Regions from separate parts of the Homo sapiens genome. Here regions 2 and 3 are each linked to region 1. The links come from fine-mapping of genetic effects on gene expression. A gene starts in region 1. Each other region holds a variant in brackets. All regions are shown on one strand. Distances are between the middles of the regions. Region 1 holds the start of ERP27 (endoplasmic reticulum protein 27). Region 2 overlaps PLBD1 (phospholipase B domain containing 1). Region 3 has its middle 33 kb from the start of RERG-IT1.

Region 1 (4,113 bases):
ACAGTGTCTGTTGTTTTTTGATTTTTTAATAATGGCCATTCTGACTAGTGTGAGATTGTATCTCATTTTGGCTTTGATTTGCATTTCTCTGATAATTAGTAACGTTGAGCATTTTTTGTAGGCTTATTGGCCTCTTGTGTGTCTTCTTTTCAGAAGTATCTGTTTATGCTCTTTGCCCATTTTCTATTGGGGTTATTTGTTTTTTGCTTCTTGATTTGTTTAAGTTTCTTATGGATTCTGAATATTAGACCTTTGTTGGATGCATAGTTTGCATATGCTTTCTCCCATTTTGTAGATTGTCTATCAATAGTTCCTTTTGCTCTGAAGAACCTCTTTAATTAGGTCCCACTTGTCAATTTTTGTTTTTGTTGCAATTGCTTTTGAGGACTTAGCCAAAAATTACTTGTCAAGATTAATGTCAAAAAGAGTATTTCCTAGGTTTTCTTCTAGGACTTTTATGGTTTGAGGTCTTAAATCTTTAATTCATCTTGAGTTAACTTTTTATATGGTGAAAGATGAGGGTGCAGTTTCATTCTTCTGCATATGGCTAGCCAGCTATCACAGCACCATTTATTGAGTAGGGAATCCTTTCCCCATTGATTGGTTTTGTTAACTTTGTCGAAGATCAGATGGTTGTAGGTATATGACTTTATTTCTGGGTTCTCTATTCTGTTCCATTGGTCTATGTGTTTGCTTTTGTACCAGTACCATGCTATTTTGGTTACTGTAGCCTTGTAGTATAGTTTGAAGTTGGGTAATGTGACGCCTCTGTTTTTGTTCTTTTTGATTAGGATTGCTTTAGCTAGTCAGACTCTTTTTTGGTTCCATATAAATTTTAGAATAGTTTCTTTTCTAATTCTGTGAAGAATGACGTTGGTAGTTAGATAGGAATAGCACTGAATCTGTTAATTTCTTTGGGCAGTATGGCCATTTTGAAGATACTGATTCTTCCTACCCATGAGCATGGAGTGTTTTTTCATTTGTGTCACCTCTGATTTCTTTCAAAAGTGTTTTGTATTTCTCCTTGTAGAGATATTTTACCTCCTTGGTTATCTGTATTCCTAGGCATTTCATTTTATTTGTAGCTATTGTAAATGAAATTGTGTTCTTGATTTTACTCTCAGCCTGGACATTATTGCTGTATAGAAATGCCACTAATTTTTGTACACTTATTTTTTTCCTGATACCTTACTGAAATCATTCATCAGTTCCAGTAGCCTTTTGGCAGAGTCTTCAGAGCTTTCTAGGCATACAATCATATTGTCAACAAGGAGAAATAGTTTGACTTTTTCTTTTCCTGTTTAGATGCCTTTTATGTCTTCCTCTTGCCTAATTGCCCTGGCTAGGGCTTCCTAATTTCTTTTGTAATATTTTCACATGAAAATTCTCCTAAGCTTAAAACTACATATCCCAATGCCTGTGGAAATCTCATCTTGGACTTCCTCAGACACTTGTGAGCAAAATCAAACTTCATCTCATTCTTCTGCTTAAGACTTTTCAGTGGTTCCCATCACCTACAGAATAAAATTGATGCTCCCGCGCTTAGTGTATCATATAAAGCCTGCTGTGAGCTGGTCCCAACATGCCTTTCTGTCCACATGTATCACTTCCTTCCTTTTCATCATTCTCAATTACTAGTAATTCTGTCACACATTATATTTGCATATCTGTGCTTTGGTTCTTTTTTTTTTTTTTTTTTTTTTTTGAGACGGAGTCTCGCTCTGTCGCCCAGGCTGGAGTGCAGTGGTGCTATTTCGGCTCACTGCAAGCTCTGCCTCCCGGGTTCAGGCCATCCTCCTGCCTCAGCCTCCCGAGTAGCTGGGACTACAGGCGCCCGCCACCACACCTGGCTAATTTTTTGTATTTTTAGTAGAGATGGGGTTTCACCATGTTAGCCAGGATGGTCTCAATCTCCTGACCTCGTGATCCACCTGCCTCAGCCTCCCAAAGTTCTGGGATTACAGGTATGAGCCACCACGCCCGGCCTGTGCTTTAGTTCTTTACATGAAACTCCCTTTCTACCTTGTGTTGCCTGGCAAAATCTTACTTACCCAGAACTCTGCTCCGGCATCCTCCGCAGGAAGAACACTTTCATTGAACCCTAGCATTGTCCCTAATACCCTTAATATGTATTGTCATAGCACCCTATGAATTTTTCTATATCACTTTCCATCTTATATTTAAATAATCTTTTTACTTGCCCATCTCTCCCACTGATAATCTAAGCTGGCAGAGGCTGGATCAGATCATAATTATCTTTCTATTCTTAGCGCTAGGATCAATGCCTGGCATAGCATATTTACATTTTTTATTTAAATAAACTGACCTGACTTTCTTCTGGTTGGATATGTTCTGAGTCCCTATTACTAACCTTGGTCTTTTATCTCAGAAGTTGAAGGCTCCCCTGGAGCCAGCTGCAAAGTTCCCAAAGCCCTAACAACCCCACAGCCAATCAGCTACAGAGTAGGCTGCCCTGAGTCGGCCTCCCCAACACAAAGTCCAGGGTTGGAGCAGGAGCAGGAGAGGGACAATGGAAGCTGCCCCGTCCAGGTTCATGTTCCTCTTATTTCTCCTCACGTGTGAGCTGGCTGCAGAAGTTGCTGCAGAAGTTGAGAAATCCTCAGGTAAAAGAAAAATGTAGTTGGGTGGCTATAGTGTGAAAGTGTTATTAGGAGAAGGAAAGGGAGCATGGTGGTTCTCTGGGTACTTTTCCTCCACACCTAGAAAGCTTTCCAGGAAATCCTGGATAAGTGCATTTTGCCTGGTAGAGAGTAGGGAAGTCTGGCAGTATCCTTCAGAGACAGACCATCAGTAGGGTCACCTTCCATATGTTAGTAAAAATATTATGCCTTGGAATGCCAACAGTACTCCTATAAATTGTGCTCTTCTTGCCCTTAGTATAGAGATAAAAGGTATAGATGCCCTCATTATTTAGAGCTGCTTCTTCTTGCCTCAGTACCCTGACATCTTCTGCTTCTCTCTCTAGATGGTCCTGGTGCTGCCCAGGAACCCACGTGGCTCACAGATGTCCCAGCTGCCATGGAATTCATTGCTGCCACTGAGGTGGCTGTCATAGGCTTCTTCCAGGTTAGTTCCCTACTTGCAATTCCCCCAAGAGCCAGAAATGTTCTACCTTAAGGGAACCACAGCAGCCACCTGCTGCTGGCAGATGGCACTGCATTAGAAGTGGGGGTAAAGGGAGACAGCCACCCAGTTTGATTTCATCTTGTCCATTGGGACCTCTTATTTTCAAGACATTCCCAGTCTCTAAATTATATCTTTCTCATACTTACTTCAAGAGTTCTGAGCCTGTGGGCTGCATCTCCTCATCTATGGATGCTTTGAAGCTCAAGTCAGTATCTGCAGAAAGAATGCCTTCATGGAACCCCACCATTGTCCTAAACACATTTGGTCTATACTCTCATAGCACCCTATGAATAGGCAGGGGCCAGAGTGAACCCAATTTATATCATCCAGCAACACTGTTTACAGGATGCCAAACATCCTGGACATTAGTCAGTGCACAGCCTTTTAAAGCCTTTCCCCCAAATATGGTAGACTCTCCTTCTTTCTCTTTGCCTTGTCTGAAATGTTGGAAAATGATGGCATTTTGTATATTCAAGGTGTTAACCTCCATCTTCCAGATTAGCTTCTTGACTAAGAAAGGCAGCCATAAATGAGACTGCCTCATTCCAGCATTTTCATCTTTCTCTGGTGGTAGCATCTGGAAATCCTCACAGCTGATCAAGCCCCTACTCTCTCATAGCAGACCTTCTTGTCTGTTTCCATTTCTCAGTTACAACTCCTGATTACCCTGTCAGTTCTGCGTACACAGTTGGAAATCACTGCAATGAGATGCAAGTCAGGGAGAAAGACAGGGACAACATTTTTCAGGAATGAGAAATCTGAGCTGTAGACAAAAACACCGTCAGAAAGATGGGGAAGGGGCAAGAGCATGGAATTGGAGGAGTGTGCAATAACTTAAACAGCCGCCAGATGCCATCATTTTATCCTCCAGCAATTCCATCTGAAGGAGCAGAATAAGAGAGGAGGCCTCAATTAATTATTGTTCATGGCCTCTAGAAGAGTAGATACCAGCTCCCTCTGCTTGAC
Region 2 (4,113 bases), 410 kb after region 1:
CTGTCTTTTTTTGTGTTAAACATTTTAACAAAGGTTTTATAACAAAATATTCTATATTTTAATAAGTTGGCTTTCTAGCTATATTTATTTGCATTTTTAAAATTGTTGTCCCTGGGGCTTGTGATATGCATCTTTAACTCATCACAATTTGCATAAAGTTAATAAGCAATTATGTCTGCTAAAAAATATATAGGAACTTAAAATGGTAATTATCCCATTTAGTGCCTTCCATCCTTTGTGCTATTGTTGTCATATATATGCTCCATCTATATATGTTATAAATACACCAATATGGTGTTATGATTTTTTACTTAAAAACTTACTGTCTTTTAAAAAATTAAAACAAGTGTGTGTGTGCGTGTGTGTGTGTGTGTGTGTGTGTGTGTGTGTTGAGAAGTAAGCTGTTAAGTATATTATTTTCCTCTCTAATTTTTTTCTGCATTTAGATTTTTGGTGACTTCAGCTTTGTCGTGGGCTAGCTCTGGTCTTCTTTGTGATTATTGTATTTTAAGTTTGTTGTGCTGGTAGGAACTGCAAATTAATGTTTTTCATTAAATGTAAGGGTTTTTCACCAGTTATAGCTTCACATATTTTTTCCATCCTCTTTTCTCTCTCTTCTCCCTCTGGGACTCCAGTCATTTATCCATCAGATGCTAAACATTTTTGCACAAGTCTTTGGGGCTTTGTAAATTTTATTTAGTTTTCTTTTTCTCTCTGTTCTTCAGATTGGATGATTCCCATTAATCTTCTATCTTCAGGTTTTCTTTGTTTTATTTTTTGTTTATTTTATTTTATTTATTTATTTATTTTGAGATGAAGTTTCACTATTGTTGCCCAGGATGGAGTTCAGTGATGCGATCTCAGTTCACTGCAACCTCCACCTCCCAGGTTCAAGCGATTCTCCTGCCTCAGCCTCCCAAGTAGCTGGGATTATAGGCATGCACCACTACACTGGGCTAATCTTGTATTTTTAGTAGAGATGAAGTTTCACCATGTTGGCCAGGCTGGTTTCCAACTCCTGACCTCAGGTGATCCACCCGCCTTGGCCTCCCAAAGTGCTGGGATTACAGGCGTGAGCCACCATGCCCAGCCACAATCTTCAGGTTTTCTAATTCCTTCTTCTGCCATCTCAAATTTACTGTTGAAGTATACAGTGAGTTTTTCATTTCATTTACTGTACTTTTCAGATCTAGAATTTCAATTTTGTTCTTTCTTTAATTTCTAATTTTATGTTGAGATTCCCTCTCTGGTAACTCTTAAAACCATATTTTCCTGTTTTGTCTTTGTCCGCTAAACCCAATATCAAGACCTACTTGGAAACAGTTTCCAGTGACTTAAGTGTGGGGTCGTACCTTCCTTTTTCTTTTGAGGTGACAAATATAGCAAATACCATGACTTGATCATTACACAATGTATATACATATTTAGTATATTCTTCACCGCAAACATTTATCAGTTCCTTATGGCAAGAACGTTCAAAATCCTCTTTTATAGTTATTTTGAAATATGTAACACAATATTGTTAACTGTAGTGCCTGGTAATTTTTGGTTGAAATGTGGACTTGAAAAATAGCACACCATAGTGTCTCTGAAATGTGTATTTTTGAGAATTATGTTTTATTTTATTTTTAAATGACATATAATTGTACATATTTATAGGGGACAGTGTGATGTTTTGATGCATGTATACATTGTGTAGTGAACAAATCATGGTATTTAGAATATTCATCACTTCAAACATTTATCACTTTCTAATGGTAAGGACATTCAAAAATCTCTCTTCTAGTTATTTAAAATATATAATATAGTATTGTTAACTATAGTAAGCCTACTGTGCAATAGAATACCGCAACTTTCTCCTTCTATCTAACTGTAATTTTGTACCTGTTGATTAAGCCCTTTCCACCTTGCCTACCCTCCCCAGCTGCTGGTAAGCATTGTTCTTCTCTATACTTGTATGAGATCGGCTTTTATAGATTCCACATCTGAGTGAGATTGTGGAGTATTTGTCTTTCTGTGCCTGGCTTATTTCATTTAACATAATGCCCTCAGGGCTCATCCACATTGCTACACATGACATAATTTGATCCTTTTTATGGCTGAATAGTATTCCATTATATGTATATGTATCATATTTTCTTTATCCATTCATCTGTTGATAGCCATTTAGGTTGATTCCATATCTTGACTATTGTGAATAGTGCTGCAATAAGCATGAGAGTGTGGATATCTCTTTAACATACTTATTTCATTTCCTTTGGATAAATACCCAGCAAGGGGTCTAGTTTCATTCCTCTCCATGTAGATACCCAGTTTTCC[A/G]AGCACCATTTATCAAAGAGAATTTTTTCCAATGTGTGTTCTTAGTGTCTTTGTCAAAAATCAATTAGCTGTAAGTGTGTGAATTTATTTCTGTATTTTTTATTCTGTCTTATTAGTATATATGTCTATTTTTATGCCAGTACTATGCTGTTTTGGTTATTATAACTTTGTAGTATATTTTGAAGCCAGGTAGTGTGATGTTTCCAGCTTTGTTCTTTTTGCTCAAGATTGCTTTGACTATTTGGGGTCTTTTGAGGTTCCATACACATTTAAAGATTTTTTTCTCTTTCTATGAAGAATGTCATTGGTATTTTGATAGAGATTGCACTGAATCTGTCAATTGCTTTGATTAGTATGGACATTTTTTTAAAAATTCCTCAAATCCGTAAACATGGAATATCTTTCCATTTGTATCCTCTTCATTTCTTATGTCAATATTTTATAGGTTTCATCATAGAGATCTTTCACCCGCTTAGTTAAGTGTTTGTTTTTGTAGCTGTAGTAAATGGAATTGCCTTCTTATTTTTTTCTGATTGTCTGCTATTGTCATATAGAAATGCTATAGATTTTTGTATATTGATTTTATATCCTGCAACTGTACTCAATTTACTTATTAGTTCTAACAGTATTTTGGTGAAGTTTTCAGGGTTTTCCCTGTATAAGATTATGTCATTTGGAAGCAGGGACAGTTTGATTTCTGCCTTTTCAATTTGGATGCTCTTTTTGTCTTTCTCTTGCCTGATTGCTTTGGCTAGAACCTCCAGTATTATGTTAAATAAAAGTGGTGCATTTGTGTCTTGTTCCAGATCTTAGAGGAAAAGCTTTCAACTTTTCCCCATTCAGTATGATGCTAGCTGTGAATTTGTCATATATGGGCTTTATTGTGTTGAGTTACATTTCTTGTATATCTGTTTTGTTGAGAGTGTTTATCATGAGGGGATGTTGAATTTTATTAAATATCTTTTCTAGATCAATAGATTCAACATCCCTTCATGGGTTTGTCCTTGATTCTGTTAATATGATGTATTATGTTTATTGATTTGCATATATTGAACCATCCTTGCATCCCTGGAATGAATCCCATTTATTATGGTGAGTGATTTTTCTTAATGTGCTGTTGAATTCAGTTTTTAAATATTTTTTTGAGGAGTTTTGTATCTAGGTTTATTAGGGATATTGGCCAATAGATTTATTTATTTGTTGTGTCCTTATCAGGTTTTGGAATCGGGGTGATGCTGGTCTCATAGAAAGATGTTGGAAGTATTCCCTCCTCTTCATGTCTTTTGAATAGTTTTCAAAGGATTTGTATTAGTTTTTCTTTAATGTTTGGTAGAACTCATCAGTGAGGCCATTGGGTCTTCGGCTTTTCTTTTCTGGAAGACTTTTTATTACTAATTCAATCTCATTACTTGTTATTGGTCTGTTCAAATTTTCTATTTCTTCATGATTCAATTTTCGTTAAGTTTTATGTGCCCAGGAATTTATCCATTTCTTCTAAGTTTTCATATTTGTTGGCATAGAGTTCTCTATATCTCTCTCAAAACTTAAGAAGTTTCTGCTATTATTTTGTGAAGCTTTCTGTGCCCTTCTCCATCTCTTCTCCCTCTCAAGTTTCTATAGTGTGAAAATGTGTTCACTTAATGGTGTCTCATAGGTCTTGTAGGCTTTCTTCACTCTTCAAGCAAAGAGCTGTCTTCAGTTCAGAAATTCTTTATTCTGCTTGGTGTAGTCTGCTGTTGGAACTTTCCATTATATTTTTTATTTCATTCATTAAAGTCTTCAGCTCCAAGAGTT
Region 3 (4,113 bases), 140 kb before region 1:
GTAGTTTTTTGAGTGTGGCTTACACTTGCTAATAAATAATGTGACCATGTTTATCATCCACACTAAAGCATGTGGTAACAAAAGAGAGCATTATTAGTAAGTTTCCTGAGTAAATAGGCATAAACCAGGACTGTCCCTGGACAAACGGCATCTATGGTTGATTGTCACCCCTGTAATACATAAACCACTTTCGACATAATATTAAGAAAAGGTGATTGTTGTCTAAAAGTATGTTATTGCTCTAAAAGTACCATGATTTTCATAAAATTTTACATCCTAGTGTTGCCTGTATCATTTTTCTTCTTTCTGCTAGAATCGAAACATCAGTCTAATACATGGTGCTGACAGGGATACAGAGCAGACAACTAAAAATTAGAGATGTTTGACAGTGGAATGTGACTCCCTGATGCCGCACGAGTCTCTTCTACAGAGCATGTGGTAGCTCACAGATAAAGGGTACCACTTGGAACGCAACTTGTTTCAATGTTCTATCAAACAAAAGATTAAACGAAAGGATGAGAAATATAATCATTGCTTTGTTTAGATGGTGTCAACCTATGTCAACCATTAAAAAATGAATAAGCATGAACAAGTAATGAACTGGCAAGTAAATGAACGATGACAATTACCAATGACACGTAAATGAACTGGCAATGCTTCACTATTAACTACATTGGGTACCTATCACCATATATAGAAGTTCAAAACTAATGTTAGGTTTTGCCTATTTCTTCAAATTATGTGACTATTCTAAATCCCTGTACATACAAGACCAACCCCTATGCATACGCAACTCCAAAAAGGCATTCTGGTTATGAATGGTTATGAAGAATCAAATCTTTTTTGGAAAAGGGAGAGAATAAAAGTATATTTATCCTATGTGGCTGATTTTAAAATATGGATATTGTTTGTAACAGAAAAAGATACTGAGTTTGAAATGCTTTTCCTTTAAGACTTTGTTCATTTGGAGTGGTTGTTCTATTGAAATTACTGTGCACCTACTCAAGAGCTAAAGTACCCCTGGGACATAGTCAAAGAAGGCAACTTCTCCATTCTCCTATCTCTGCAGACTTTACATGATATAGAAGGAGAAAAACTAGACCCCAGTCCAAATCGGGTACATTCAATATCTTTGTATTAGAGAAAGCATAAAAGAATGAACAAGGTCAATTTCTGGTTTTAGTTATAACCAATATTAATATGTTACTTTTCCAGGGTCTGGCTAATGACAGAATCTCATAACCAAAGCTTCTGGAGAACCACTAGAGCTGAGTTAATATTCTTCATAAAAGGCTAATGTACTTTCAATTCTGTAGTCAGAGTTTACATTCTAGAAAGAGCTTGCAGAATATAAAAGTTTCTGTTAACCTCTTTATAAGAAGCTGAAGTACGAAGGCATGATGTGGCTTTCCTAAGGTCATCCTGAGTGGGTGTCAGAGCTGAGGCTGTACAACACAGGTACCTTCCACCTTGTTATGCCACAGGGCAGTGAAGGAGATTTTTAAGCATTTCAAGAACAGTCTTCCTACAATGTTTTCCATGGAGAGAATTCTGTGTGTTTGAATAATGTCACCTTCATGAGTGGTTTGCAAAGTATGGTCTCCAAATCAGTAGCATCAGCTTCACCTGGGAACTTGTTAGAAATACAAAATCTTGAGACCCACCTCAGATCTACAGAATCAAAAACTCTGTGCGAAGCTCCCAAAATTGTTTGAGCAAATCTTCCAGCTTGTTTTGAAGCATATTAATGTATAAGAACTACTAACCTTGTAGTTTCCTTGAATCTATATAATTGCTAACACATTTGGAAGACTCCCCATCTTGGAAATCAAGGTAATCTGGTTGTTTATTGGCTGTAAACAGTGAGGAATTAGCTTAAATTCATTAACTTACTCATTTCATTCATTTAAATTGATCAACTATATAATTCATCCTGTAATTCACTGGTCTGTATTTTAGGGATAGGAAAGGAAGAAACAACAAAAAATGAATAAGGTATGATTCTGTCCTTGAGGAACTTAGGTATATCAAGAAAAATAAGAAATTACATTTGATGGTATTTTTTTCTCTTTTTTTTCTTTTTGAGATG[G/C]AGTCTTGCTCTGTTACCCAGGCTGGAATGCCATGGCTTGATCTTGGCTCACTGCAACCTCCAACTCCTGGGTTCAGGCAATTCTCCTGCCTCAGCCTCCCAAGCAGCTGGGATTACAGGCGCCCGCTACCATGCCCGGCTAATTTTTTTTTTTTTTTTTTTTTTGTATTTTTAGTAGAGACGAGGTGTCACCATGTCGGCCAGGCTGGTCTCAAACTCCTGACCTCAAGTGATCCACATGCCTCCGCCTCCCAAAGTGCTGGGATTACAGGCATGAGCCACCGCACCCAGCCTTTATGATATTTTTTAAATGGTGCATTGTAAATGTTACTATTATTTAGAAATCGACTGAGACATCAAGACCCAGATAGAAACTTCATAGCCTATGGAAGTCTACAGATGTTTCCAAAATTTCTATAAATTTTCTTGTTGTCACATCTGTCTCCAAATATCTGATCTCTCTGGTCCTCAATCAATTGGTCTAGCTGTGGAACGCAATCTTCTTCTAATTCTAAGGATCGAAGGAAAAAGAAAAAGAAAAAAACACTTGCCAAAATTATTCATGAATGTAGTCATTTTCACTGGAGAATTGAGAGTGTTGGAAAAGGGTTCTATACTAAAGAAGGTGAACAGATTCCAATCATGGAATGGATTTCCTGTACCTAAAATGCCCTTGTGATTTCCCTCTGACTTTACCCCTCTCAGAATCAATCCATCCAGTCTTCCATTCCCTGACTCCTCTCGTCACATCCTTCCATCCTTCTTTTGCAGAGTATTTAGGCCCTGTTTGTTGTTTAAAAAATTCACCTTTTATGGCTGCTGTAAAAAAGGGCACACTCAAAATCTAGTTGGTGACTAGCAGGACAATTATCCTTGGAATATTAATAGAGCCTTCAAACATATATGATGGTAAACATTTGCTCTGCAAAATGTTTATCAACTGTTTCCAAAGCACTGCAAAATCTACACAGACAAATAAGTTTCTGTCTTTGCCTTTATGGGGCTTAGGAACTAGTAAGGATTTGGGAAGAAGACAGGGATCCCCACAAATGTGGAGTAAATTACTGTCAATTTTCTACAAAGTAATCAGAAGTGCTCAATCCAGTGCTATTTCATTAATTCCACAGTTTCAAAAAAAAAGTAGGTATATGAGCCCTGAGAGAAAGTTTAGGGCTACAGTCAAGAAAATCAGTTGCTTAATGGTGATGGTTGAAGCCACAGGAGTCAATTAGAATGACTAAAAGAAAATACAGAAAGAATATGTGTTGAGGGCGGATATTTTCTAGATACCTACAGAGAACATAGAATCAAGATGACAATGAAGTATTGTCAACATCGTAATCTGTTTGGACTGCTATAACAAAAATAAACTTGGTGGCTTATAAACTACACAAAGATATTTCTCAGTGTTCTTGGGGCCAAAAAGCCCAAGGTTAAGGCTCAGGCGGATTCGGTGTCTGGTGAGGACCCACTTCCACATAGGCAGCAGGCTTCTCCTTATAAACTCACATGACAGACAGAATGAAAGTGTTCTCTGGGGTCTCATTTATAAGAACACTAATCTCATTTACGAGGCTCCACACATCCCAATACCATCATTTTAGGGGTTAGGATTTTGACATATGAATTTTGGGGGAACATAAGCATTCAGTTTATTGCAGTTAGTGATACAAAAACAGAGTAATATAAGAAGGATTTTAAGAAAAGCATGATTGTTACTAATGACAAATGCTGCACAGGTCAAGCAGGTAGAAAAGCAAGATAAATCTATTGTCTCAGATAAACTAAAAGTCATTGAACTTGTACAGAACATTCCACAAAGCAAAGACATCAAAAATCATATTGACATGGGACGATGGGTTGGAGATAAAAATTCAAAGGCAATAAATTTGGACTATTCTCCCTACCCCCAACTTTAACATTCTTGGAAGAGAAGGTAGTAATTTGATTGACTAGTAACTTAAAGACAATGGATTTCACATGAAAAGAATTAATTTGATTTAAAAAATTTGAAAGAATTTATA

The links. PIP is the estimated chance that this variant, and not a neighbour inherited with it, causes the effect.
Region 2: its variant is fine-mapped to the expression of ERP27 in thyroid (GTEx, PIP above 0.99).
Region 3: its variant is fine-mapped to the expression of ERP27 in whole blood (TOPMed, PIP above 0.99).

What each region holds. Positions count from the first base shown.
Region 1 is chr12:14,936,926-14,941,038 of GRCh38, reverse strand. It overlaps ERP27 (endoplasmic reticulum protein 27), which reads left to right and starts at 2,502. Exons shown (of 7, transcript NM_152321.4): 1 at 2,502-2,624; 2 at 2,987-3,087. The coding sequence starts at 2,531. RefSeq lists an enhancer at 2,987-3,046.
Region 2 is chr12:14,521,960-14,526,072 of GRCh38, reverse strand. The region is part of intron 6 of PLBD1 (phospholipase B domain containing 1); the gene reads left to right. Among named protein-coding and RNA genes, the nearest start is that of PLBD1-AS2, 6.1 kb to the left of the region's middle. The variant A/G (reference allele first, on the strand shown) is at 2,320.
Region 3 is chr12:15,079,620-15,083,732 of GRCh38, reverse strand. No RefSeq gene overlaps it. Among named protein-coding and RNA genes, the nearest start is that of RERG-IT1, 33 kb to the left of the region's middle. The variant G/C (reference allele first, on the strand shown) is at 2,090.